4 linked regions of the Homo sapiens genome follow. The protein of the gene in region 2 interacts with the protein of the main gene of each other region in a pairwise test. Each region holds a gene or a part of one and is shown on either strand. Other genes may lie near its edges. The genes, in order: DYNLT1, ARID4B, DNAAF6 and NHSL2.

Evidence for each region.
Region 1: the proteins of ARID4B (region 2) and DYNLT1 interact in binary tests that used the Homo sapiens proteins (3 or more experiments, as listed by UniProt).
Region 3: the proteins of ARID4B (region 2) and DNAAF6 interact in binary tests that used the Homo sapiens proteins (3 or more experiments, as listed by UniProt).
Region 4: the proteins of ARID4B (region 2) and NHSL2 interact in binary tests that used the Homo sapiens proteins (3 or more experiments, as listed by UniProt).

What each region holds. Positions count from the first base shown.
Region 1 is NC_000006.12:158,635,964-158,641,765, forward strand, and holds the end of DYNLT1 (dynein light chain Tctex-type 1), read right to left. Parts: intron 5,398-5,802; coding exon 5,356-5,397; intron 1,932-5,355; coding exon 1,808-1,931; intron 1,243-1,807; coding exon 1,165-1,242; intron 935-1,164; coding exon 864-934; 3' UTR 511-863; downstream 1-510. UniProt on the Homo sapiens protein: Acts as one of several non-catalytic accessory components of the cytoplasmic dynein 1 complex that are thought to be involved in linking dynein to cargos and to adapter proteins that regulate dynein function.
Region 2 is NC_000001.11:235,220,166-235,227,197, reverse strand, and holds part of ARID4B (AT-rich interactive domain-containing protein 4B), read left to right. Parts: intron 1-1,635; exon of another isoform or gene 1,636-1,685; coding exon of another isoform or gene 1,686-1,703; intron 1,704-2,422; coding exon 2,423-2,495; intron 2,496-3,937; coding exon 3,938-4,032; intron 4,033-5,535; coding exon 5,536-5,633; intron 5,634-6,652; coding exon 6,653-6,896; intron 6,897-7,032. UniProt on the Homo sapiens protein: Acts as a transcriptional repressor. May function in the assembly and/or enzymatic activity of the Sin3A corepressor complex or in mediating interactions between the complex and other regulatory complexes.
Region 3 is NC_000023.11:107,209,589-107,216,620, forward strand, and holds part of DNAAF6 (dynein axonemal assembly factor 6), read left to right. Parts: intron 1-3,284; 5' UTR 3,285-3,287; coding exon 3,288-3,440; intron 3,441-7,032. UniProt on the Homo sapiens protein: Plays a role in cytoplasmic pre-assembly of axonemal dynein.
Region 4 is NC_000023.11:71,913,827-71,920,858, forward strand, and holds part of NHSL2 (NHS-like protein 2), read left to right. Parts: intron 1-7,032.

The sequences.
Region 1 (5,802 bases), on a different chromosome or scaffold from region 2:
CCCAGCAGAGCCGTCAGGATCCTGGTCCCACGGGTAAAATGAGTACATCATGGAGAGGACCACAGCAGAACTTTTTTTTTTTTGGTTGTATATATATATATATATATTTTTTTTTTTTTTTTTTTTTTTTTTTTTTGAGGCGGACTCTTGCTCTTGTCACCCAGGCTGGAGTGCAGTGGCGGGAACTTGGCTCACGATCTTGGCTCACTACAACCTCTGCCTCCTGGGTTCATGCCACTCTCCTGCCTCAGCCTCCCGAGTAGCTGGGACTACAGGCGCCCGCCACCACACCTGGCTAATTTTTGGTATTTTTAGTAGAGACGGGGTTTCACCGTGTTAGACAGGATGGTCTTGATCTCCTGACCTCATGATCCGCCTGCCTCAGCCTCCCAAAGTGGTGGGATTACAGGTGTGAGCCACTGCGCCTGGTCTGGTTGTATAGATTCTGTAGCCACTCACTATGAAGAAATCGTTTATGATACTATGCAGACTATGAAGAACACAACAGACTTTAGATTTGAATAATTTATTCTAACAAAAGTATAAAGTATGGAAAATTAGTGTATTTGAATCATTTCAGAGAGTAGAGCAAGTTTCACACTAGCAGATTTCAGATTTTAGCACCTTTGAAATGAAATATTCAGAGTTAAGACAAGTGGCAACGCAGGCTGCAGGTGACCTACAGGGATACTCATCTGACTTCGGTGCCATTCACATCACAGTGCGGTCATTTGGTTTTTTCCTCTACATTGTGAAAGTGCCACAAAACAAAGAGAATGAGAAAAGAGTTCACTGAATTCATGGCTGGTGGTTAGAGGATGAACTAGAGACAAAAGGAGAAAGGCCATAGGCTGGACTGCAGGTCAAATAGACAGTCCGAAGGCACTGACGATGCAGTACATGGTCTTATTCTCCCATCGCACAGTGCAGCTCCCTGCGGGAGGGAAGAGAGCAGCATTTACGGCAGGGAAAGCTGGGGGACGACGTTTTACTCACAATAAGGCCAACATTCAAGTACCCATCTCTATGCTACACAAAGAACCTTGGCAAGTCTATTATTAAATGTTTTAAAAGGTGATAAACATGCATTGCATTCAAAGATAGGAAACTTCCAGTCATATATTTCACACAACAAAACTTCACAAACATGAATGAAAATCATACCGTCAGTAGAGCTGTCCCAGAAGCAGGAACTTGCTGTGTGTAATCCAGCTCCATTCTTCTGCATAATTACACAGGTCACTTAAGTTAAAACAAATTTTTGTTAGAGAAGTCTACTGGGTAACACAAATGTCATTCTGTCCACTTTTAGCAAACGTACAATGTATGTAGCTCCACGTGGTTGATGTTCTCGATAAAAATTATAGGGACAGATTGCCTTGTCTCACTATATTGACAAATTATAGGTGCTCCTTGACTTACAACATCCCATAAACCCATCATAAATCAACAATATATGAAAATGTAAGTTGCAAATGCACTTAATACCCTGGTAAATCCATCAAAGTTGAAAAATTCTAAGTTGAGCCACTGTCAGCTGGGGGCTGTCCACACTTCCTCTATGCTTCACTTGTTCTAAAAGCATCTGATGGGACCTCCTGTAAGATCCCGCTTCACATACGATCTGCAATTGTACCAGCAGCCAAATGGTCAAGCGTACGCTAACGTATACTACACACACGACCGACTCCCACCAGGAGCCTTCCTTGAGTTGAGCCACGTTAGCTGTTGTTTCTGGTACTGGATGCCCCTCTGATCAGTGTTAAAAAACCATCCCGCAAATATAAAAGAAACAAGACTCCATTACCGATGTATTTAAATGGTTTTCCCAGCTTGGTGAGTTGGCTTAAAGTTTGTTCTACTACATTTGTGGTCCACTGGTTCACTTTGCTGTGTTGATAAGCGTTACCACCAATTGCGCTTTCTATAGCCTAGAAAACAAAGCACAAAGCGCGTCCCGGTTAACCAAATGCACCCACACCACCTTTCAATCAGGAACTGACGGCACCCCAAGAAGTGATTTATGAAAAGTTTATTTTTAATCATGAGGGTGCCTTTGCAAATATACTTTTAATAGCATTATATTTCATTTAAATAAGTTTGAAATTTGCTTCAAAAATTCATAGTCTGTCAAATTATTTACACATTTTGACCTAATAATCACATTTCATGTTCACTACTATTAATACATTTTTTTTCCTGTTGAGGCTAGAAAGTATTTTGCCTATTCATTTCTTAAAAGTATATTACTTTTATCTACTACTACCTAACATACACTAATACTATATATTAGATGAATTGTATTTGTACAACTGACAATATACAAAGCTATCCAAATAATCATATATTAAAAAATACTTTTATCCAGCATTGTCTGAGAACATGTTACCACATTAAGTGCATTTTTCAGATAACTAAAAGCCCTTTATATTCCAAAACTTATTTTAGGTTTATGATGAGATTTTTTTATTTTTACTTTTCTGAGGCAGGGTGTCATGTTGCCCAGGCTGGAGAGCAGTGATGGAATCTTGGCTCACTGCAGCCTTGACCTCCTGGGCTCAAGCAATCCTCCCACCTCAGCTTCCCTCCTGGGCTCAAGCAATCCTCCCACCTCAGCTTGTCCAGTAGCTGGGACTGCAGGCATGTGCCACCACGCCTGGCTAGTTTTTTGTAGAGATGGGGTCTTGCTCTGTTGCCCAGGCTGCTCTCAAATGCCTGGGCTCAAGTGATCCTCCTGCCTCAGCCTCCTAAAGTGCTGGGATTACAGGCATAAGCCACAGCACCCAGCCCAACTTTTTTTCTTTATTATACGTTTACTTCTTTATCTATGCTGTATTCTTTGGGGGTTATCTGACAATGCAAGCTCATTGTCGCTGCTCTTGCTAAGCTTATCATTATGATATTGCCATTGTATGATTTTCTGAGTTTTTCATTGTCAGCTCCCCTTTCACATGGATGCCAGTGTGCTTGCATCTCAGCAACTTTATTCTCTACCCCTAACTTGCTGTGCTGGAAACCAGGAACCTGAGTTTCTATGACAGTTATGACCTAAAGTGAAAATAACAACATTCAGTGAGGGCCAAGGTCTGTCCTCAGACAGGCAGAGCAAACCAGCAGTCCAGGGATCTGAGCTGTGCATGGTGGTGATGGACTGGGATCTGATGCCTGGGGCTTAGATCTGGCGACCTTGCTTTTGAGGACCTAAAACCTCCCTAGGTCACTCTGATTTCTACCCACTGACCTGCTGATCATCTCCCTGAGACTCTTGAGTAGTCACGTTACACATAGGGCTGGCTTACTTCTTGTCCTCGGCCACTGTGCTCCCTCCCAGCTCAGAGGCTACAAGAGGGCTGGGGGGCCAGAAGTCCCGGTTTAAGAGAACAGCAGTATTACTAGACCTGGGCATTGTCAAAGGGTAGGGGGGGCTTTGTTCAAGCTAAACCTCTCCCGTCAAAGGGTGGGGGAGGCTTTGTTGAAGGTAAACCTCTCCCTCCGCCAGCTCTCCCTCCGCACATACTTTGAAATTCAGTTTTTCAAGGAGGAGGGAACCCTCCACCAATTTTGGACCTGCGCAAATTGACTACTACCCAATATTTAGGGTCACTTGAGTACAGAATTACCTATTGCGGCGGCAAAAAAGCTGTTGAGGCCAGTGACACAAGTTCAAGTAACACTGCAATGTCACCTCATGTTTCCATGTGGATTGGAAATGTGTTTGTTTTGTTTTGTTTTTTTAAGACAGAGTCTTGCTCTGTCGCCCAGACTGGATTGCAGTGGCGTGATCTTGGCTTACTGCACCCTCCATCTCCCGGGTTCAAGCGATTCTCCTGCCTCAGCCTCCCAAGGAGCTGGGACTACAGGCATGCGCCACCAAGCCTGGCTTATTTTTGTATTTTTAGTAGAGACGGGGTTTCACCATGTTGGACAGGATGGTCTCGATCTCTTGACCTCATGATCCGCCCACCTCGGCCTCCCAATGTGCTGGGATGACAGGTGTGAGCCATCGCGCCCAGCATGGAAATGTGTACTTTCAATTGCACTTGCTAATTGAAAGCTGGTAACCAAGTCAAAGATAAGGCAGAAAACAACTGCGGCAGAACTAGACTTCCCAACAAGCCCCCTCCACTGTTCCCAGTTCTGGTGTAATCCACCCACCTTCCTGCCCCCTGCTGTGTTCCACGTGAAACTGTGTATTTAGAAAAACCATGAAAACCAAACGTACAGATCCTGCAAAGCAACCAGAAAGTCACTCCTGATGCTGAACAATGTAAATGGTCAAACAAAATCATTTTGCCTTTGGATACTGATCACAAACATAGGTTGCGGTTTTTTATCAAACACTAGTCAATAATTTACATTAAATTCTAAATTACATCTGAAACCCCAAACAGTATCATTAAATTCAGATCATCTAATAGTTTTCTTTTAGCCAATGGCTTTAGTATCTGTGCCCCATTTTACCCAGGGAAGGCAGGGAAGCTGATGAGGAAAACTCTTTCTGGCTTCATTCCTACCCTAGGTAGGAATGAGCCCCTAGCTCTCAGCACCGCTCCAGCCACACCCACCTCCTTTCACTCCCTCACACACCATGCACTGCCCCCACTTCCCAGTCTCAGGGGGCCTTGTCCCCTCTTTTTACTGCATTACCCCTACTTCTCATTCTGCAGATTTCAGCTCGAAATGGTCCCTGAACTCCCTGGGTGGGTCACATTCCCAGTTCAGTGCTCTCACAGCACCACCACTAGTGGCACTTACCACACAGCAAATGCAGGCTGACACCTTCCAGCAGGACTGTTTGATGTGTCTGCCCTGCCTGCCCCTCAGCTGTAAACTCCAGAAGGGTCTATGCCCTGCACGCTCCCTCAGTGTGTACTTTCTGAATGAGTAACAAACATCCCTTCTGTCTCTCTTCCTCTTCATGATCAACAACACAATAAAGTGTGAAATTTAGGAATGTAAGAAAAGTAAGCAAATAGGCCCCAAACTGGATCACTAGGTCCAGAATAACTGGAAATTGATTGTTCAATTTTCTTATACTCACTCTTTCTTCATTCAACCCTGGAGACATTTATTTGTATACCAGGATTCTTTTATGCTTAAAAGATTATAGAATCAAATCTTGGTGATATGCAGTAATAATGCTATGTACATAAAACTCCTTATCTGATTTAAAATATGTAATTTACATAATATAGAAGCAACTCTTATCTAGCTATTTACTGAAGTAAAAACTGTTATTTGAAACACCAAAACACACAGACTCAGTCGAAACAATTCCAAGATAGTATTTAAAACACATTATTTTCTCTAATATAAGCCATTAAACATTTAAGAAGTGAGCATTTCTCCTCTTACCTCTTTTACAATGTTGCTCACTTCATCAACAACAAAAGCAGTCTGTAAGGAAGAACATTCAGTTAAGTTTGATTTATTTAAAAGATATTTCCACTACATTGATAAATGCAAATGTAGGTAATGAACATAATGTAGAAATGAAGACCTTAGAAATAATCTAACTAGACTGTTCAGCTTTACCAAGGATGGCATTACAGTCTTCAGAAACCAGAAGACTAGAATACATGCACATAATTTAAAGGTATTGTTTTATTTTTATTTATTTATTTTTGAGACGGAGTGTCGCTCTGTAGCCCAGGCTGGAATGCAGTGGCGCAATCTCAGCTCACTGCAATCTCTGCCTCCCAGGTTCAAGTGATTCTCCTGCCTCAGCCTCCCAAGTAGCTGGGATTACAGGTGCCCTCCACCACACCCGGCTAATTTTCGTATTTTTAGTAGAGATGGGGT
Region 2 (7,032 bases):
ATAGCAATGTCAAATTACATATGTTGCTGCTACTCACCTTTGCATATGCTAGTACCTCTGTAGGCACCACCTTTTCCTCCCCTCCTTCCTTAGTCAGCATGGTACATTCCTGTTCAATTTTCAGAACCCTACTTAGGTGCCATCTCTCTAAAGAGAAACCTGTGAACCATCACCTCCCTCACCTCAGGAAAGCACCAGTTCATTTGCTAGTCTAAACTACTACTGCTCCTGGCAGGCACGGTGGGTCATGCCTGTAATCCCAGCACTTTGGGAAGCTGACGCTAGCGGATCACCTGAGGTCAGGAGTTTGAGACCAGTCTGGCCAACATGGTGAAACCCCGTCTGTACTAAAAATACAAAAATTAGCTGGGTGTGGCTGGGCGCGGTGGCTCACGCCTGTAATCCCAGCACTTTGGGAGGCCAAGGCAGGCAGATCACCTGAGGTCAGGAGATCGAGACCATCCTGGCTAACATGGTGAAACCCTGTCTCTACTAAAAACACCAAAAAATTAGCCGGGCATGGTGGTGGACGCCTGTAGTCCCAGCTACTCAGGAGGCTGAGGCAGGAGAATGGTGTCAACCCGGGAGGCGGAGCTTGCAGTGAGCCGAGATCACGCCACTGCACTCCAGCCTGGGTGACAGAGCCAGACTCCATCTAAAAAAAAAAAAATTAGCTGGGCGTGGTGGCAGGTGCCTGTTATCCCAGCTACTAGGGAGGCTGAGGCAGCAGGATTGCTTGAACCCAGGAAGCGGAGGTTGCAGTGAGCCGAGATGACACCACTGCACTCCAGCCTGGGCGACAGAGCAAGACTCTGTCTCAAAAACAAGACAAAACAAAAAAAGAATTACTACTGCTCCTTATACATATTTTTGTCATTTATATTTATTGTCTATTTTTTCTTCCCCACGAATTTGTAAGTTCCTTAAAGTTAGGAATGCTGTCTTACTCGTATTCATACTTAAAGTGTCTGTCATAGTGTGTAAAATATAACAGATGATAAATAGCTACCAAACCTTTTGGTGCTTAGTGTTTTCACAAGTGTTTTTGTAAAAGCAAATCTGTAGTGTAGTGTAAACATTTTCTTGAGTTAAAAGCTTACCTTAAATGTTTTTGGAATAGGAAAAATTGTGCTGTTTATTAAAGTTAAATATTGTACCATGGGAACATTTAAGATAACATCTAGAAAATAGATGTCCTTAGATTTGTATTTGATCACCTTACCAAAACCTGAATGTATGGAGTGTGTTTAAATTGAGAAATACAGATTCATCATTAGCAAATTAATGGTTGTCATTTATTTTTCTCTGCCCAATTAGAAAACCTAATAGTTGATCAACATAGGCTTTAAAAAAAAAATTACCTTTCTTTGTTGTACTAGCTTTTAAATTAAAAAGACAATCTCGCTAAAGCAGTGGCATTAGGCACATGATTTTCCAAATTGAAAAATGCTATGTTTTTATTTATTTAGATTACCAGTTGAATATCCTAACTTTTACTGTTACAAATCTGTATATTTAAGCCAGAGTAACTGTAAAGCCTAGCTGTATATTTGGAATCATTTTCTCTGCAGTTACTCCTAATCATGTTCTGTAACAGTAGGCTCCATAGCCTATTTTTTCTTTTATTTGATTCAGCACCTGGCATAGTACCTACACTTACAGGTGCTCAAGTGTTTGTTGAATGGATGAAAGTCATTGAATTGGTGAGTTCCTCAATCTTAACCTACTACCCTGCTCCTTGCAGGTTGCTTCAGGACCAGCTCCCTGCTGCCACAGCCCTTGGCCACAGCAGCAAGAAGCTAGTCCTTCCCTTGTAATTGATAAATTGGGGAACTATTTTATTACTTGAAGATTTCCCTAAGTCTGAATCTTCAGGTATTGTAGATCAAATTTGTTCCCCACTTTACTGATTATGTAAGCTTGAAGTATATACAGTGGGGCTGCATAAAATGAAGGATACTTGCAGTCAGCTAATGGGACCCATACTTTTATAGTACCTTGAGGAGCAATAATAGAATTAGTTTTGATGTTTAACTCTGATCCAGTTTCGCATAAGTTGAGAGTAGGTATTCTTGAACCTGTGATCCTGATTTGAAAAATAGCTCTCTCATATGGTAAAAAAAACAAAACAAAACAAAACAAAACCACGAACAGTCTTGCTAGTCCCTTTTCTCATATGGGAATTTTTACTGTGGGGATTCTAACTATTGGGATACTTTTTAAGGCATATTCCTCTATAAAACATAAAATGTCTAGACTTACCTGGTTTTGAACAGCTTAGTGTTAAAAGAGTAACTTTGATTACGTAAAAAGCCTTTGAAGTATTTTAATGAACACTAGTCTTTGCTATTGGTAAGAAATCTGCTTGTTTTATTAAAATGCTTAATTGAAGAAAATAATATTCTTCTGTGATTAAAATTAGGAAGAAATAGAACCATTTCCAGAAGAAAGGGAGAACTTTCTTCAGCAATTGTACAAATTTATGGAAGATAGAGGTGAGTATTTTTTATTTATCATTAACGTGGTAAGTTTTGGACAGATAATTAGTATCTTAAAAATAAGAATAGAATTTTGTTTACTGAACTTTATGTCATCAGTAATTATGGCTGTCTTTTTGACTCTGATATCACCAGCACCTAGCATAGCGCCTGTCACGTAACAAGTAGAATGAGGAATTTGATAGCATTTTGACAGATATTGTGGCTATGGACACATAAATGCACTTATTACCCTGTCCTGCCAATCCCTTTACCTATCCATGGGTCCCTAAAGAACAGTAGCAAAATGGGAATTAAGCCAGAAATAGATAAAGAAGTGTGACAAAGTCTCAAAAGTGAGCCTTGGCTCAGCTTATTTAATCTGCCAGAAGCTGCTAAGGCCACGGAAGGATTGAAGGAAGAAGAATAACTTAGGGTAATGAACTAATCCTTCCGTAACCTCAACACTGTTATTCTCTAGCTTATCTTCTTGGTCAGAGTCTACTTTCTTCTTTTCTGGGAAGATGCTTGTAAGGGAGTAAGGAGAGGCTTTCTAGCTGGAAGGGAAGGGCAAAATGAATGATTAGTGTTTGGAAACACCACAATACTCTGGGAATTGAACGTTTTCTAAATCCCTGATTGTAATGCTGATGAGTAGAAACTGACTCTGTTTGTCATGTTTAGTTTTCATAAATGATAACAACGCCTAACACAATATAAGTATATTTTCTTTTTCAATATAAAATGTCTTTGATTCTTGTATTATTTCTTTACATGAATGGAGGGTTGGCCTAAGAAGTATGCTGTTTCATAGGCTCTTGTATAAGATAAATGAAAAAGCAAAGAAAATGAATAAAATCTAATACTAGAAAAGAATGAAAAAATATGATTAAGCCAGTCATATATTTTGTAGAAATGGCCATATGAGGCATTGTACCCCTACCCTGTTACCTCCTCTACCACTTTCTCATGGTTTGTTTGATTTAGCATCCTTGCCTTGCGTTTTCTTGTGTTAGAATGAAAAAAAAAAAAAAATGTAGCTTTACTATAGAATCATTATTTAGAGTAGTAGTAAATTGGTAAAATACAAAGAAAATGCCATAAAAGTAACTCTTATTGGGAAGCAGTTATCTAGTATTTCTTCCCTCAGCAGAGGGAAGAAAGTAGAATGAAAATAAAAGGTTTCAAGAATCTGGTTATGGTTTTTAAAATTTAAAAAATTTTAAAGTGGCCATGGGCTTATTTATGTGTAGATACCATGTCTTTGATTAACAAGATAATTTCTCATATATATATATACATATATATGTATATATACACACACATATATATACGTGTATATATATATATACGTGTATATATATATAAAATACTATAAATACTTGTATTATTTGAATCTTTTGAAATTTTAAATTAAAAATGTAGTGTGGATCTAATATAGTTTGTGTTTTCTGTAACAGGTACACCTATTAACAAACGACCTGTACTTGGATATCGAAATTTGAATCTCTTTAAGTTATTCAGACTTGTACACAAACTTGGAGGATTTGATAATGTGAGTGTTGTAGTCAAACTGAAACATCTTTTTCATGTAACATGTTTTCTCAGGTATCTGCCATCTCTGAAATTGTTTTTCTAAACAACAAAACAAAGTTTTTCAGTAAAAACCTAAGAAGAAGATAAAGTGGAAAGTACAGCTAGCCTCCTCAGACAAAATTTAAATTTTAAAGATTTTTTAGGCCAGGCATGGTGGCTCATGCCTGCAACCCCAACACTTTGGGAGGCTGAGGCGGGTAGATCACTTTAGGCCAGGAGTTCAAGAACAGCCTGGCCAACATAGCAAAACCCCATCTCTACAAAGAATACAAAAATCAGCCAGACGTGGTGACGCACGCTTGTAATCCCAGCTACATGGCAGGCTGAGGCACGAGAATCGCTTGAACCCAGGAGACAGAGATTACAGTGAACCAAGATTGCACCGCTGGACTGCATTCCAGCCTGCGTGACAGAATGAGACTCTGTCTCAAAAAAAAAAAAAAAAAGATTTTTTTTCATATCAGCTTTCTGATTACTGTTAAATTGGTCAATCTTTCATAAACCTTCTTTTTTTATCTGAGTCACAGCACAGCCATATTGGTGGAAATCCTTCCTGTGTCTCTTTTTCATTAGACAGTATGCTCCTTAAGAGCAGGGATCTGTCTTAATATTCTGTATATTCTTAATCCCTTTCAGAATATAAAGGGATTAAAGCAGGAAATGTTTGTTGAACTGATCTGAAGAAATTATTTTAAGGTTGACGTGATGTACGATACTTATCCAATTGAGAATATTCTATGGAATAAAATACTTTACAAATTTCTGCAGAACTGCATTTATTAGCCTGTATATTTTATGCGAAATAATAAATCCTTTAAAAATGTTTGTCTCCATTTCTTTGTTAAAAATTTTGATTTAAGAGCCTGAATATTTTTCCATTTTCCATAACTGGGTTTATTTAAAAGTCAAATGGGGCCAGTTATGGTGACTCATGCCTGTAATCTCAGCACTTTGGGAGGCTAAGGCCAGGGGATTGCTGGAGCCCAGGACTTTGAGACCCGCCTGGGCAACATGGTGAGACTCCATCTCCACAAAAAAAATTTTTTAATTAGCCAGGTGTGGTGGTGTGCATCTATAGTCCCAGCTACTTGGGTTGTTGAGTCAGGAAGATCCCTTGAGCCCGGAAGTTCAGGGCTGCAGTGAGCTGTGTTTGTGCCACTGTTGCTGCACTTTAGCCTAGGCAATAGAATAAGATCCTGTCTCCAAAAAAAAAAAAAAAAAAAAAAAAAAAAAAAAAATAGTCAAATGACTTAATATTTCAACATTTATAATTTTCTGATATTTGTTAGAGTACTAAAACCTTTATTTTTAAACCAAATTTAGAATTTATCAAGTTTTTAAAAATTCTTTTGAGTCTAGGACCAATAAATATAAAAATATACTCATATATACTGTGTCTATCAAAATGTTATTATATTAACACCTTTTAATTTGAGAGTTTTTGTTTCACTTTGTCCATTAGATTGAAAGTGGAGCTGTTTGGAAACAAGTCTACCAAGATCTTGGAATCCCTGTCTTAAATTCAGCTGCAGGATACAATGTTAAATGTGCTTATAAAAAGTAAGTTAGTATAATTGATATGATTATCTTCAGTATTTTTACCTAGAAAGCAGGATGAAATTTACCTTATAACTGAGGTTAATTATTTCTTTAAAGAAATCAGAACATTTTACTAGAGTAGTCATTCTATGATAGTATTTTCTAAAGTGTATTCTATGATACTAGATCTATGAGAAATTCTGTGAAGAAAGTTTTTGTGGCTAAGTACATTTGTCAAGTACTTCATAGAGGTTAAAAAGCTAATATTCTGAAGTCAAGTAAATCCACATTTGAATCCTAGTTCTGCCAATTATTAACTGTTTATGCCCTAGGGCCAGTTATTTATTCTCCTAAGCCTCAGTTTCTTCATTTGTAAAATGGAATGCTTGGCCAGGCACGGTGGCTCATGCCTGTAACTTCAGCACTTTGGGAGGCCGAGGCGGGCAGATCACTTGAGGTCAGGAGTTCAAGACCAGCCTGGCCAGCATGGCGAAACCTTGTCTCCACTAAAAATACAAAAATTACCTGAGCATAGTGGCTAACGCCTGTAGTCCCAGCTACTCAGGAGGCTGAGGCAGGAGAATTGCTTGAACCCAGGAGGCGGAGGTTATAGTGAGCTGAGATTGCGCCACTGCACTTCAGCCTGGGCAACAGAGTAAGGCTGTCTCAAAAAAACAAAAAAAAACAAAAAAAAACAAAAAAAGGATGCTGCTGTGTGCCCCAGGGTTACTGTAGTGACTAAATGAGATTTACTAAGGAGTCCAGCCTCACACATAAGAAATGTGCAAAAAATAGATGCTATTACTAATACTTTTAATAGCTGTTATTGTTATGACTCTGAGCACAGTGTTTTAAATGAATTTTTTGACAAAATTTTTTTTTTGCATTGAAAAGATTAGAAAGAACTAGAATAAATTAGAATGTTAATATGGCTCAATATCTGAGAGTTTAGACAAAAGAAATGAATACACATTAAAAATAACTCTATAGTTATATTTTGAAATGTTTTCACCAAATGTAATTTCTCTTCATGTTTCCAGATACTTATATGGTTTTGAGGAGTACTGTAGATCAGCCAACATTGAATTTCAGATGGCATTGCCAGAGAAAGTTGTTAACAAGCAATGTAAGGAGTGTGAAAATGTAAAAGAAATAAAAGTTAAGGAGGAAAATGAAACAGAGATCAAAGAAATAAAGATGGAGGAGGAGAGGAATATAATACCAAGAGAAGAAAAGCCTATTGAGGATGAAATTGAAAGAAAAGAAAATATTAAGCCCTCTCTGGTAAATCAGATATTGTTAATTGTCTTTTGCTTTCTTTGGTATATTTTCCATATCCTCTATAAAGTTCCAAAATCAATATATTGTATAATATTATTCTTTATTATTTGTTTATTTTCTTCATTAAGTGCTACTTTTG
Region 3 (7,032 bases), on a different chromosome or scaffold from region 2:
TGCCCGGCTAATTTTTGTGTTTTTTAGTAGAGTCGGGGTATCGCCATGTTGGCCAGGCTGATCTTGAACTTCTGACCTCAGGTGATCCACCCACCTTAGCCTCCCAAAGTGCTGGGATTACAGACGTGAACCACTGCGCCCAGCCCTGCTTGGTGGTTCTTTATCACCCTGATTTTATTTACCATATATACTTGAATTAATAAAATCTATTATCTATTTGAATAGTCTGTAATTCAGAGTTTTCACTAATTTAACCTAGACTTTTCTACAATTAACTGATGTCAAAAGCCATCTTTATTGATACTGTGAAGGAGACAAATAAAATAGAAAGCATGATCCCAGCCTTAGAACCAGTCTGACTTTAACTCAAGGTTACTGATGTTGCTTAAGTGCTGTGGGTCTGGAGCCAATCTGGTTGAACTTTTTCAGCCCCTGACTGGCTCCAGTGTTATGGTAATGAGCTGGTTCTGGAGTGTCAGTTGCTTTAGCTCATTGTGGCTAGTAGATGGTCCAATCATGCCTCTATTTATGAAGACCCCAAGTACTCAGGTTAATGTGGGAAAATCAAAGGCTCTGTCTGGAAAATGTTGCCATTAGCATTGGCCTAGCAAAAGAGAAGGAGAGAAAGAAAAACAAAGGGCCTAAAAAATTTATTTTCTAAATACAAATCTCAAATAAAAGACAGTAATATATTTTGTTTTTACTGAAACTCTTAAATTTTCCTTACTTTAAGTTTATTCTTGGCCTATTTAAGTGACAGTGCCAGATTCAAACATTTTAGGCAGTGTGGCTCCAGAATCTTCTTTTTCATTTTTTATTGTTATTATTTTATTTATTTATTTATTTTTGAAACAGGATCTCACTCTGTCTCCCAGGCTGGAATGCAGTGGCCCGATCTGGGCTCACTGCAACTTCCATCTCTGGGACTCAAGCAATCATCCTGCCTCGGGCCCCTGAGTAGATGGGACCACAGGGGCACACCACCGCGCCCGTCTAATTTTTGTATTTTTTGTAGAGTCGGGGTTTCGCTATGTTGCTCAGGCTGATCTCGAACTCCTGAGCTCACGTGACCCGTGAGCTCACCTTGGCCTCTCAAAGTGTTTGCATTACAGACGTCAGTCAGCCACCATACCCGGCCAGAATCTTCTTTTTAAAAATCGCTACACTGTACTATCCAATAAGTCAGGGCAAAAGGAAGAATGCACTCCAAGGTACAAAGGCAGGAAATTATAGAGTATGTTTAATAAGCAGTTTAGTTTTTAACAGAATATGTAGGAGAATAATAGAAGGGAAGGACAGAAAATTACGTTGGGACTATATCCTGAAGGACCTTGATTGCCAGACTCAGGATGAACTTAAATGTATATCACATTTAGAAATAAAAGATAGAGCTATAAACTAACACTGCATAGTTCATTGTAGTGAAGATAGTTCCCTACAAATAGTTCTTTGTAGTTCCTAAAAAGTCCTCCTGTTTTAGTTTTTCAGCTGTGATCCACTTGTGTCAAATGAATTTTAATAAATGTTTTTTAATAAAGTTGAATAAGTTATTCTAAATATGTTAGACTTCTTAAAAAGCTAGTAGAATCTTCCTTTCCATTGAATTTTGAATGTTTTTTTCTAAAAATTCACAAACTGTTTTTCTCTTTTGATACTTTGAACCATTTAACTAGTTAGTCACAAAATATTTGGGATTCTTTTGTTTATCAAAATACAATATCAACAAACTTGTCATGATTGATTTATTTATTTTTGTTGTCATGATTTATTAATTTGTGTTTACAGATTATTATTACATTTGATATGGCAAAAATATTTTGGCTAAAGTGGTAATTTTATTATTATATTTCTATTTTAATTGAGCTATAGTGCAAATCTATGGCATTTTATTCCAGCATAATTTGGAAGTCCAATTGTACTTTAAGAAGTCTAACTCCTAATATGCTTCAGATATATAAAGTGTTACTAAGAATTATTGTGAATAATTTAACAAAAACAAGTGTACACGTTCCAAGGAGGACCATCCCCTTCGAAGTAGTCACTTTAGGAGACTAATCTATTTACTCTAATGTTGTTGTTATTGCTAAAATTGCTTTTGAAACTTCTGTTTTAGAATCACCTTGAGGCATGTAGCACATTCTTTTGAATATCCTCAAAGAAGAAAATCTTCATATTTTGAAAGTAGACATGATATCTAAATATATCTAGAAATCACTTGGCGACAAATCTGATGTGTAATCAAACCAAATGATACCATAATGATACCATAATGATACCTATTTTCTTGGTGATACATATGAAGGCAATTCCAAATAAAAAGAAAAATCCCAAAATATTTTGAGCATTGATAGCATAATTTACATCAGTGTATAACCTTCCAAATGACTATTTTGAAATATAACATTCAGATGAATTTAGTCATGCTTCATTTGGTATTAATCAACTGCTGACTATGTGCCAGCTGCAGTTATTAAAGACACTAAATCTACAGGTATAGCTTCCCACTGCTCACACTGGCCTACTTCCCACCTAATGAGAACCAGGCCAGAGTTCCTTTCCAAATAACTGGTAGGGATTCAGAATTAATCTGGTTTTTCTGAATCCAGTATCCAATGTACCAAAGGAACCATAACATTCCTTCATAACCTCCACTGTGGGTACCTAGGTGACACGAGAAAGCCACCGACACAGTGCCTGGTTTGTTTTCTCTTTTCCAGCTGGAACTTTGAGCCCTATTCTGCCCTATTCTGAACCTTCATCTCTAGTAGTCAACTTGTGCACAAACCTCAAGAACTGTACCCCACCTTCTATAGGCCAGCGTCCTTCTTCACTTTAAATAGGTCTCCCTGTAACCATGACTTCAACCTTTCTGCCCTGAAGCACTGCTCATGTCTAAAAAATATGTTCCCAAATGATGATACATAATGTATCATACACTTTTTCTAGAGGTAGGGCTTAAGAATCTGCATTTTAAACCAACTCCCCCAAGTGATTATTAAGCACATTAAAACCCGAGAACCACTATACTAGGTGCTCAATAAGTGCTTGTTAGCTTGAGTATGACATTTTAGTAAAGCAGGCTGAATGTTTGAGTTTACTTGGTGCTCCAGGTCTGTGAGTTAGCAAAATACATATATTTGAAGGAGTTTAAAAGGATTTCCAAGGAAGTATAAGAACCAATGGAGTGATCCAGGGAAAGAAGGGAGATATGACAATAAAACATCTTCATGTCTTAAATAAAACAGAAAAGTAAAATACCTCTTTCTGATTATCTTTTTCTTCAGATAATGGAATCTGAAAATATGGATTCTGAAAATATGAAGACAGAAAATATGGAATCTCAAAATGTAGACTTTGAGAGTGTTTCTTCAGTTACAGCTCTGGAAGCCCTCTCTAAGCTACTTAATCCTGAAGAAGAGGATGATTCTGACTATGGACAGGTGGTCATATACTTAACAGTTGAATTAGTTTTGTTCATGGGAAGTTGTGGAACTGTATTTGAATAACCTGTTCCCACCTAGCTGTGGGAACAGAGCTGTGTCATTTGATACATTCACAGGAAGCTACAAGGCTGATTATGCATGACAATGTAACCTGTAGTACATTTCTAGCAAAGATAATTATATTTTTCTAAACCACCTGAACACTGAATAGGAAAATAGTTCTGTAACTGTGGTAGCAATAGCCACATCTCAAAATGTTGTCATTTATATTTATAGCCAAAGAATGCTTGACAACCATTGCAGAGTGGTAGCTAGGATTGTTTAAGCCTAGGCAATATTTCTATAAAACAAATATTTTCAGTTATACAGTATTAATTGGACCACCAAGTACCAGTCCCTTAATTTTTTAATTTGTCTACACATTAACGCAGAACAGAAAGTTTTTGAGCCAAATAATAGGGCAAACTAGTTTCAGCCTACCAAAATTGGCTTCCCAGTAATGCACAAATAAAGTTGTGGAGTCTAATTAGTTGAGTAGCATTTGGGGTCAAGATAGGTAATGCCAGCAAGGCTTGCAGTAGCAAGATGGGCTTCATTTTGGGTAGAAGAGTTCATTGAACTGACCTTTGACCACTCCAAGGTTACTGCCAGTATTCCCAGAACAATTAAAACACTTTTATATAACTCCCTGCTCTCCATTCTCCTATTTCTTAACTATCGGTGAGCCTTGGCTATCAGACTGCCTATGATAGGGCAAACAAAATTTGGGGCAAAAAATCCCATATCATAACAGAATCTGTCAATTTGCATAAAATTATTTTAATGAAGTGTTTTGTTATATGACCAATTTATCATGAATAAATCATCTTTCACAAACGTACATATCAATTTACTCCTCCCAAAATTTATTTTTGCCACAATGTGGAGAAAAAAGCAAGCTATGAACAGGCAGCAAATTCAGTGGCTCAGATTGACACTGAACTGAGCTACCACCCTAAGGAAGAGCTTAGGTGGAATAGGGCAGAATAAATAAGATGTGAAATGGGAATAACATTTGTAGAAGAACTGAGTCAGCTTGGAGCCAGGATCAGGAACCAGGAAGTTTTAGTCAGGGAAAAGTCTTAGTAGAGGCTAAACAAAGAAACATCAGGATGTTAATGACAGCATTAGCTATACACAACAAACAGGATACAGGAGAAAAAGTTAGGAACAATGTATCAATGAAGTTGGGAAGGCAAGCTCATTTTTGCTACCTTAGTTGAGTAGCAGAATAATAATTTTCTGGAGCCTACATCCTAGGAAAGGTAAGGTTATGCCATATAGAAAAAGTATATCAAGTATTTGAGAAACAGTGACCTTGAATATAGTGAAGTGGAACTTGTAACTGGGACAGATTCAAATATAAGGATTTACCCTGGTTACAGAGCCTATTCCATTTGGTGTTTATGGCTGGAGGTGTTTATTTGCATCTAGAGGTGTTTCTAGGAGAAAAGATGAGTGCTTATGAGAATAGACTAACATAATATTACTGAGTTGTACAGTTTATAAAGGAAAATTACTATAATAATGTATGATTCTGTATATCTGGGTTATAAACAATTTTGAGATAATTGGTCATTCAGACACCACAGTACAGATATCATTAGAGGACATACAGTATCAGAACAGTGGGAGAATAATTAATGTTTCTAATGAACTATTACATTTTCCAGGAGAGAAACTGCTTTTCATTTTTTAACATGTATTAATCTTGGGAACTGTGGGATGATTACAAGAGTGATGTGTTTTTGAAAATATGCTCTCTGAAAACAGCAAGAGAACAGTTGCATACACATTGCTTCATTTACACTATCCCTTTTCTATATGACTTGTTAAGAATCTGGGAGATTGAGGAGAGAGTGTGTCTGTCATTTTTCAAAGCCATGAGGGGATCTTAAGGCCTGTGGGAAATAAGGTTCACTGCTCTTCACAGACATTATAACGAGGATGTTCTGTCTTACATATTACAAAGTGGCATGAATTGCAGTGATAAATTGCTCAGATAATTGGCTGTAGATTCATGGTAAAGGCTCAAATGATGTTCTAATAGAAAACAATTGCCAGATGGTTTTTAATGTTTTTATGATCCCATTCCATCTTTTAACTTGAAAATTTTATTTTTAATCATTTATTTTCATTAAATTAATAAATTGAAACTCCCATGTGTTCTGAGCCAATCACTGTCCATGGAAAGTATACCAATTTTTGTCAAGAATGTCCAAGGTTTTACTTCTACTGCTTTTAATTTTCTGTGGAAGGCAGCACTCAACTAAACAAGAGGCCCTCATGTTCTGAGAAATGCTTTACTCTGACTATTAGTGTTCTGATGATTAATAATTTAAGAAAAGTACTACACATTTACATGACATTAGTGATTAAAAAAGAGGGAAAAAAATGTCCCAAATATTATCTTGGGATTTTCACATAAAAATGCCTGTAATGCCTTAACCGCAGACATAGCACTTTTGAAACACCTTTTGGAAAGGAATAGTTACTGTCTCAGACACTGTTGAGAGATTATAGATTAATTTCTGATTTATAACTCTTGGAATAGTTTCACATAATAAAGACCCACGTGAGCTGTTCCATCAGCTTTCAAGAACAGACACTACTCTCCTTGCCCAAACAAGACATTCTAACTTTTGTACATGTCTAAAGTCTTAGGAGATGAGGACAGGGGCCTGAGAAAAGAGAGATAGAGGTGCTAGTTGGCCAGTAGGCAAGGAGATAAGAATTTTTTGACTGCCAGCAGTGGAGTGAGTTGGAGCTGCAGGGTCTGTCATCAGCAAAAAACAATTGGTAAGAAATTGGGATTTTCTTGAAATATCAAAGAATCCCTGAGACGGGCCAATGAGGTGGTGTCGCTATGTGTTATACTTAGTTGAAAAAAATGAAGATTGCTTGTATTGGTGAGTCAGGGCAAGTCCTTTGGGGATGTGTATGCTTGTGCAGAAGATGGAAAAATAAACTTATGAAGTTATGAAGACTGAAGTACATCAGCATGTATTAGAGACTATTAATTTGTGGTTGCTGTTTAAATCCACTAGTTCAGTGTCATGAGGCGGTGGGACAGGGAAGTGTTTCATACCTATAGTGGAAAAAAGTAAAAGCAGTTATCAGGGCTTTTGAATGATTAATCTGAAGTCTGAATACTTAGCTTCTGCTTAGTGTTAGTTTTTATTTCTATAAAACTTTCACATACTCTGTCCTCCATCTGACTACAACCAGACACTGCTAAACCCCAAAAGTGTCAATGCCTTTATACTAATACTTGGTTCTAACCTTCATAGAGATGAATGTGGCTCGTTCCTCTATCCCCAGGGATACATGATTCACTGAGCTGGAACTAGGGTTTTAGCCTGACTAAAGATCAATTCTGCTCTTGAGTCTATTAAACCAAACACTTTTTGAAAGAACAAGGAAAGCATATTCGAAATAGTACTTGACATCTGTCTTTCTGTTTTATAACAATGATGGGTAATTAAAGTGGAAAGCTCCATGAGTTTTTTTATGGAAATCCTATCAAATTTAAAGTATCACTAGTCATATA
Region 4 (7,032 bases), on a different chromosome or scaffold from region 2:
GCAGGGGAGGACAGAGAGAGGAGGAGCGAGATAGAGGAGGAGAAAGTGGATGCTGAAGAAGTTGAAGGTGCTTCTCTACACAATCACAATCATGGGTCATGCCCCCACCATCTTCAAGGTTACAGGGGTGGACTGGGCTAGGCTAGTTGCCTCGCAACATCCCACCCACTCCACTGAAGGCTGTTCTTTGGTAACATGAACCCCTTTGAGACTGCCCTAAAAGCTCTTGTAACTGGTATGGTGTGGGAGATGGGGATGGAAGGAGGAGACGGTAGACCACAGGACTGCCGAAGGCCCCTGTGGTTGTGGATCTGTGGCAGTTGCCACACCCTAGGCATGGCCCTGCCTATAAGTTGAGGTTTTCCCCACATCTGGTTTTGAATGTGTCCTGTTTTATGGCATCTGTGGCCTGTACACTGGGTTCTTCATCTAAAAAATGGTGTAGTCAAAGCCATTGGGAAATAGCTCCATGCCTGCCACCATATGCTGAGTCAATCTAAGCTTTCCAACTTCTCCCTTGGAGATCTATATAATGTTTGTAGGTGCTTAGATGATAATTACAAAAGCAATCAGGCCATCCGCGTAGGGATATAATATCTCCTTTGCCATCAAGGAAGTCACTGAAGGGCTAGATAATTCTAGGTATGTTTAATAACACTGGAAAACTATCATGTTACACTAGCTCATGAACTTGCTGTGGGAAAGATGTTCTGTTGCTTCTTACAATTATTTTGGCTTGAATACAGCCAGTTGGGTCCGTGGTGAAAACTCCCTCTTCATCTTTATGTAAAATTCCTACTTCTTGATTTTCCAACTTTATGGCAACTCTGGCTCCAAATCAGAAAGGACAGCTGGTTTATTTGTGTTTAAATCATAATTCCAGTGTGAGGATAGACTGTTGTAAATCTATACGGAGATGAAAAAATGAAAAAAGCACCTCCAGACTGCAATGAGTTTGCCATTAGATGAGGTGTTGTGGACCCTGAGTCTGACCGTCCTTGCTAATGAAGAGAAGAGATGGCCTCTTGAGTCAGATGGAGTGGGGAGGGTGGCAGGAATTTGGGGACTTGGAACAGGCACTCAGCCAGGGCTTACTTTGTCTCTGTGGTACGTTTCATCCCGAGGCTCTTGGGACAGAGGGTTGACAGAGTATGGAGGGAGAAGCAAACCCATTTTCTTTTCTCTTCCCACCCCACCCTGCTTTCCATTTTCTTTTTAAATACCATGAAATTCCTGGTCTGCTTCATGGTATTTCCATGTGTTGAAAACATCTTCCCTGGAGATTTGGATACCAAAATGTCCACTAGAATTTCTTCCACTTTAGAAACAAGACATTTAATCTTCTCTTTTTTAAGACACATGAATAGCTAAAGTGATAAAAGTGTCAGGATGTTGGAATAGTAGAGTAATAGGAGAAGATTCAAGTTATGGCTCTTGGGCTCAACCTTGACCTTGACGACATTGATTAGGTTTTAGGAGGAGAGTGGTATATTTACATCATCTGTTCCTGTACCTCTCTGGTGTGGTACCAACAATTCAGTCATTAACCACCATATGTGTCATAACACTTGACATCCCGGACCCAGAAAGGGGAAGGTACCTGTCCAAAGGCACCCAGCTGGATCAAGACCTTCAGTAGTCATGAGTGCTGAAAAGATTTTAGTGCCTCCCCATATGTAATTCCAAGTGAAAGCAATACTAAACCTTTAAACAAAAATGTTACTCTTTTTAAATGGCTCAAAGCTCACATGGATGTTGAAATTAAAATATCTTACTAGATTCTTTCTCCCTTCCTCTCTGTCTTTTGTACCCCTGCTGTTGGTGGCCTAATCATGTATTTAATCTGCTGATTTGGGAATGTGGTACCGGCTGGGTCACACAGCAGGTCAGTGACAGGAGGCCTCCACCTAGAAGCCATGCCTTCTGACAACCAGACTAGTGCTCTGCCCTCTGCAGTGATGCTAAGTTCAAAGTCAGTTGTTCTTCGAGAGTCATTTTCTTGGCATTTTCTCTAGTTGGAACTTGTCCAGGATGAGAAATAACTCCTGTTACCTTTAGTAACTGAGGGCACCCTGTGGTTCTGTAGTTGTGGCCGGGGGTGAGCTGAAGCTGGAGAGGAGAAAGGAAGGTCAAACTTTCTCATATAGAGAATATAGAGAATAGGTGTGAGGCAACAGGCTCTCTTGTTAAAGCAAAACATAGTCTTCTTTGAATGGAAAATTGCTCCAGAAAAAGGATCTTCAGGTGGGAAGGGGTGGCTGGCCAGTGACCCTGACACTGTTGCAATCCCTCCTGATCCCTCTGCCATCTTTATACCTGTTCTTCTCCCTTGTAGCTTTCAATCCAGTTGTAGACACTACTTGCCACACACCTGCATCCTGACTATTTTCTGTTATTCTAGTAGAGGCTGGTTGGCATTTCAGAAGGCACCTTTTATTAAAAACCAATGGGAACAAGAAAGTAACATTATTACCAAAAGTGCATTTAGCATACACATTTACAGGGTATGGATTTCTTATCCTTCAGTGCTCAAGTAGCTTAACAGGCTCACTGGCTTTGCTGCTGTATTCCCTTTCTGAAGGCCTCAAATCGTCTTTTCCTTAGATCATTATTTTCTAGCCTCGAAAAGTGGGCACAACTGCGTCTGGACCCTGTCTGACCTTTGTGCTGGGTGCTAAAGACCCAGAGGTGAATAAGACCCAATGTCTCCATTCGAGGAGCTGCCAAGCTGCAGAGGTAGGTGCCATCTCATTCCTGACCACATCAGCATGTGGTGCCTGGGAATCAGGTCTTATTTAGGTGGAGGAGAGCTGATAACCAGAACCAGGACCCTAGTTCACATACCAGAAGATTCTTCTGCTCAGTCCGGTTTGGCGTCCAAAGATGGAATTTGGACTTTTAGAATTCCCTATGGTAAAAACAAAAATAAAAACCAATCTGTCATTCTGTTAGTGTTATTGTGAATTTAGCAATGCTTTTAAATGAATTTGCAGTTTTAAACACTATAATGTTATCTTCATGCATATGAAGAGTAGTGCTTATTCAGTCCATAGACAATGCTTGGTGGATCTGCAAACTAACAGACTTCTTGTGATAACTCTATGGTCCTCTAGAGTCCTCTACTGTCAGTTGGGAATCGCTGGCCTTCCTGGTTCAAGCTATCAGCTCTCCCCTGCTCTGTGGAACTCCACAATTTCACTCAAATAAGCCCTCATTGAAGTTTTCAAGTTAGAGGGCACAGGATGGCAATCTTAACAGTCAAGACTACTTTAATAATGCCACAAACAGGAGGTATGTTTATTAAGTGTACAGGTAGTTTGCAGTAAAGTGCTTTGTATGAGGTCATGCACAAGACCACTAGGTATCAGCCAGTTAACTTGGGAGGTTTGAGCAATTAGGCAGCTCTTCCTCCCTCCCTTCCTCTCTCCCTCCCCCCTCCCTCCCTCCCTCCCTCCCTCCTTTCCTCCCTTCCATTCCCTTCCTCCCTCCCTCTCTTTCTAAAATGTAAGCTCCTCAATAAGATATAAGCTCCTTGAGGGTAGTAGTCTTTATCTGTTTTCACTGTTGTGTCTCCAGCTCCCAAAACAATGCTTGGCACCTAATAGGCACTTAATAAATACCTGTTAGATTGAATACCTTCTTTCTTTCTTTCTAGCTATCGCACACTCTTTGAGTACTTGACTCTGGGCCCTGCCCTGTGCTGATTTCTGGGGGTACAGAGTAGAACTAGGATGCAGGCCCACAGTCCAGTGGGGAGAACAGTGAGCCATAGTGCTGTGGAGATAAGGTCTAGGCTACCGGGGCAAGGCAGAGGAGGCACACCTGACTCAGGACAGAGGCTGAGCGAAGCTTCCAGGAAGATGTGATGTCTGAGTTCTGAAGGATGATCTGGAGCTGGCCGTTGAAGGTTGAAGAAGGTGGGGGAAGGAATTCCTGGCTCAGGAAGTAGCCTGTGCAAAGCCCTGGATATGTGAGAGAGCTGGTGTGGGGGAGGAATTCACTGCCAGTGATTCAGGAGGAGAGGGAGCAAGGCACCTCCTGACTCAGAATAAGCCCCCAGGGTGGAGGTGGGGTGGGAAGTTCCTCACATCCTGTTTGTTCGTCAGGGAGTTGGATATGAGGGTCTTGAGAAGGTTAAACTGCATGGTTCAAATGAAGTTGTAATATTAACTAACTGTGGATTTTCTTTATCTACACTCAAGTTTTCATTATCCTTGGGCAGATGAGACCCAGGCAACCTCGGCTCCTTCATGCTTTGCAGGGCCAGGCCCTGGGCCCCTCTAAAAAGGCTAGACAGAGCAGGAGGGGCTCCGAGCCACAGTGAGAAAGAGAGAGAAAGCAAGAGTCTACCTGCCTGTGTGTCCCCGGCTGTGTGTATCCAGTTGCACTCCAAAGCTAAATGTATTATTTATGCCCCTGCTTTTCTGTGAGTGGGGAAATTTGAGGCTTGACGATATCTTTTATTATTATTTTTCTTTCTGAATAGCATAGATTCTTCAGAATCGTCTGTAATTCATCAAGGGGAAAATCAGAATTTTTTTTTTTTTTTTAAAATGGACTCAAAGAGGAGATGAGTTTTTAAAAAATATCTATCATCTGTTTTTATTTTGACTGGAATCATTTGCTTCCGAGCACAGTGTAATTAGCTGCCTGACAATTTATAGCCTGATCCCCAGTAACTGAAAAATACCAAACTCAAATTATTCCCCCAGACTAGGAGGCCCGGAGGTGATTGAGGTCTCCTTACGTTAACATCCTCTGTCCTTGGGGGCTGAGGGGGAGGGCAGTTCTCTGCCCTTGCAGGAGGTGGTATCTCCGAGTTGTCAGCAAGACAGGCCTTGTTGTTATACACTGAGTGTCTCCTTTGACTCAGTAATTCCATTTCCAGGATTTTATGCTAAAGAAATAATCAGATATTGTGGGGGGAAAAATGTGCAGGGAACCCCCACTGCATTTTTTGGTTATTTGCATTAGCCAGAAAAAGGAAAATAACTTACACATTCAATAATAGGGGAGTGGTTATATAAATTTTCCTAGGTCTATGTGATAGACTAATATACAGCCATGAAAAGCTATGCTCTAAATGAATTATAAGGCTACATGGAAATGCACAAAATAATGCTGAGTAAAAACCAAAGATAAAATTTACTACTATATACAATATCGTCTAAAACAGAGCACCCACACAGACACATACACATAAGAAGAAACTGGAGAAGCCTATGCCAAAATGCTGACAATGATTATCTCAGGGTGATGGGATTATGGGGATGAGTGGTAGTATTTTCCTTCTACCATTCTGTATTTGTCAAAATTTCCCCAATCAACATCTATTACTTTTAGTAAATAGAAAAGACAATGGATGACATGTTAAGGAAAAGGATCTTTGGATTTGGAATCGTCAGCTTCCAGGTGAAGTCCCACTTGCCCAGCACCTACTATCTGACTCTAGTGTCTCTGAGCCACAGTTCCTCATCTGTAAAATGGGGTTAAATACTACCCAGTTCACAGGGTTGTTGTGAGGATCCAAAATAATGTATGTATTAATGAAATGCCTGGTGCCTATGCTGCAACCATGGACACCATCACTAAATACTAAGAAGGTGAAATTCCACGAAGCTTGCTGAAATCCCTGGATGGGGGTACTGTCAAGATGAAGTTATAATAAGAATGTTCCTAGACAGCTATGAATTGCAGCCATTCTTCCCTTTTCCAGAATATGTAAAGAATGTTTGTGTGCCCACGGAGGAGCCGCATCTAGCCTTTGAGGCTGTCAGCTCATCTTTCCCAACCCGAGGATTTTCCTTTCCTCTGACTCCTCCCTTCATTCTCCCCCACTGACATCTGTTCACTGCCTCGCCAACCAAGGGGGAAAACATTCTTTGGAACTGAAGCTGAGGCACCACCAAGAGTCAAGGCAGCTATGAGATGTTTATTGTCACAGAGAATATGTGGTGCTGGCTGACCACAGAACCTGCCAGGCTGGGATGCCAAGGAGGGACTTTAATGAAGCAGCAGAGGATGGATGCAAGCCGCATAGCCAGGCAGTGTCCCCTGCCTTTGGGCAGAGCTCTTGTCCAAGTGTCTCACTGGCTCTCTGTTTTCTTCCCCTTGGGATGTCTGCATGGCTCCTGGTTGAGCTCACCAGTTTTACAGAACCAGCCTGGTTTATGGGTGAAGAAACACCTTCTCACAGAACTTATGGGGCCTAAGCGTGTTTCAGTAAAGTACTGGGCAGTTTGCCTGAGGGCCCAGCATGCCTAACTCTCACCAGCGTGGATATGAAGCGAGGAAAACCTGAGCTCACAGCCAGGCAGCCTCAAGGACATAGGCACACCTCAGCAGTGTCTACAAGATGCCCTGGCCACCAGGCAATCCAGCCATCTCCCTGGGTAGAATCCTTCACACTGCATGTCTGATTGCATTTTTCATTTTTTAATTACAGCCGTAGACTCATATAGACTCTGACTGCCAATCTAAAGCACCTAGAGAGTTTTTTTAAATTGTTAATGTTTTGCTAAATTCTTAGTAATTATACAAAATCATTATGTAGACCAATAGATATTATTGACCAAGATATAGTGATGCTTAAAACAAAGTCCTCTGTAATCAGTACAACATGTTGGTAGAATTTACCCTAAATGTTAAAAAAAAAAAAAGTACTAATGCTGTGGCTCCACCCCATACCAATAAATCCAGAATTTCTGGGGGATGAGGCCCAAGAAACAGTACTATTTAAAAGTTCCCATGTGATTCTACCGTGCAGCTTAGGTGAAGAACTCCTGTTATAGATGTTAAAGCTGGGAGAGACCCAGTTTCCTGACTTATTTGAACACGCAATCCTTTACAAATTATACTTGTGGATAATGAGCATGAACTATGATGCAGACTTAGATTAAAGTAAGTGACAAAAAAAAATGATCTCGCAGATGAATTAATTGTAAGCAGTAATAATGCGAGGTTAGGTTACATATATATTTTGTTTTTGTTTTTTTTGAGACTGAGTCTTGCTCTGTCGCCCAGCTGGAGGGC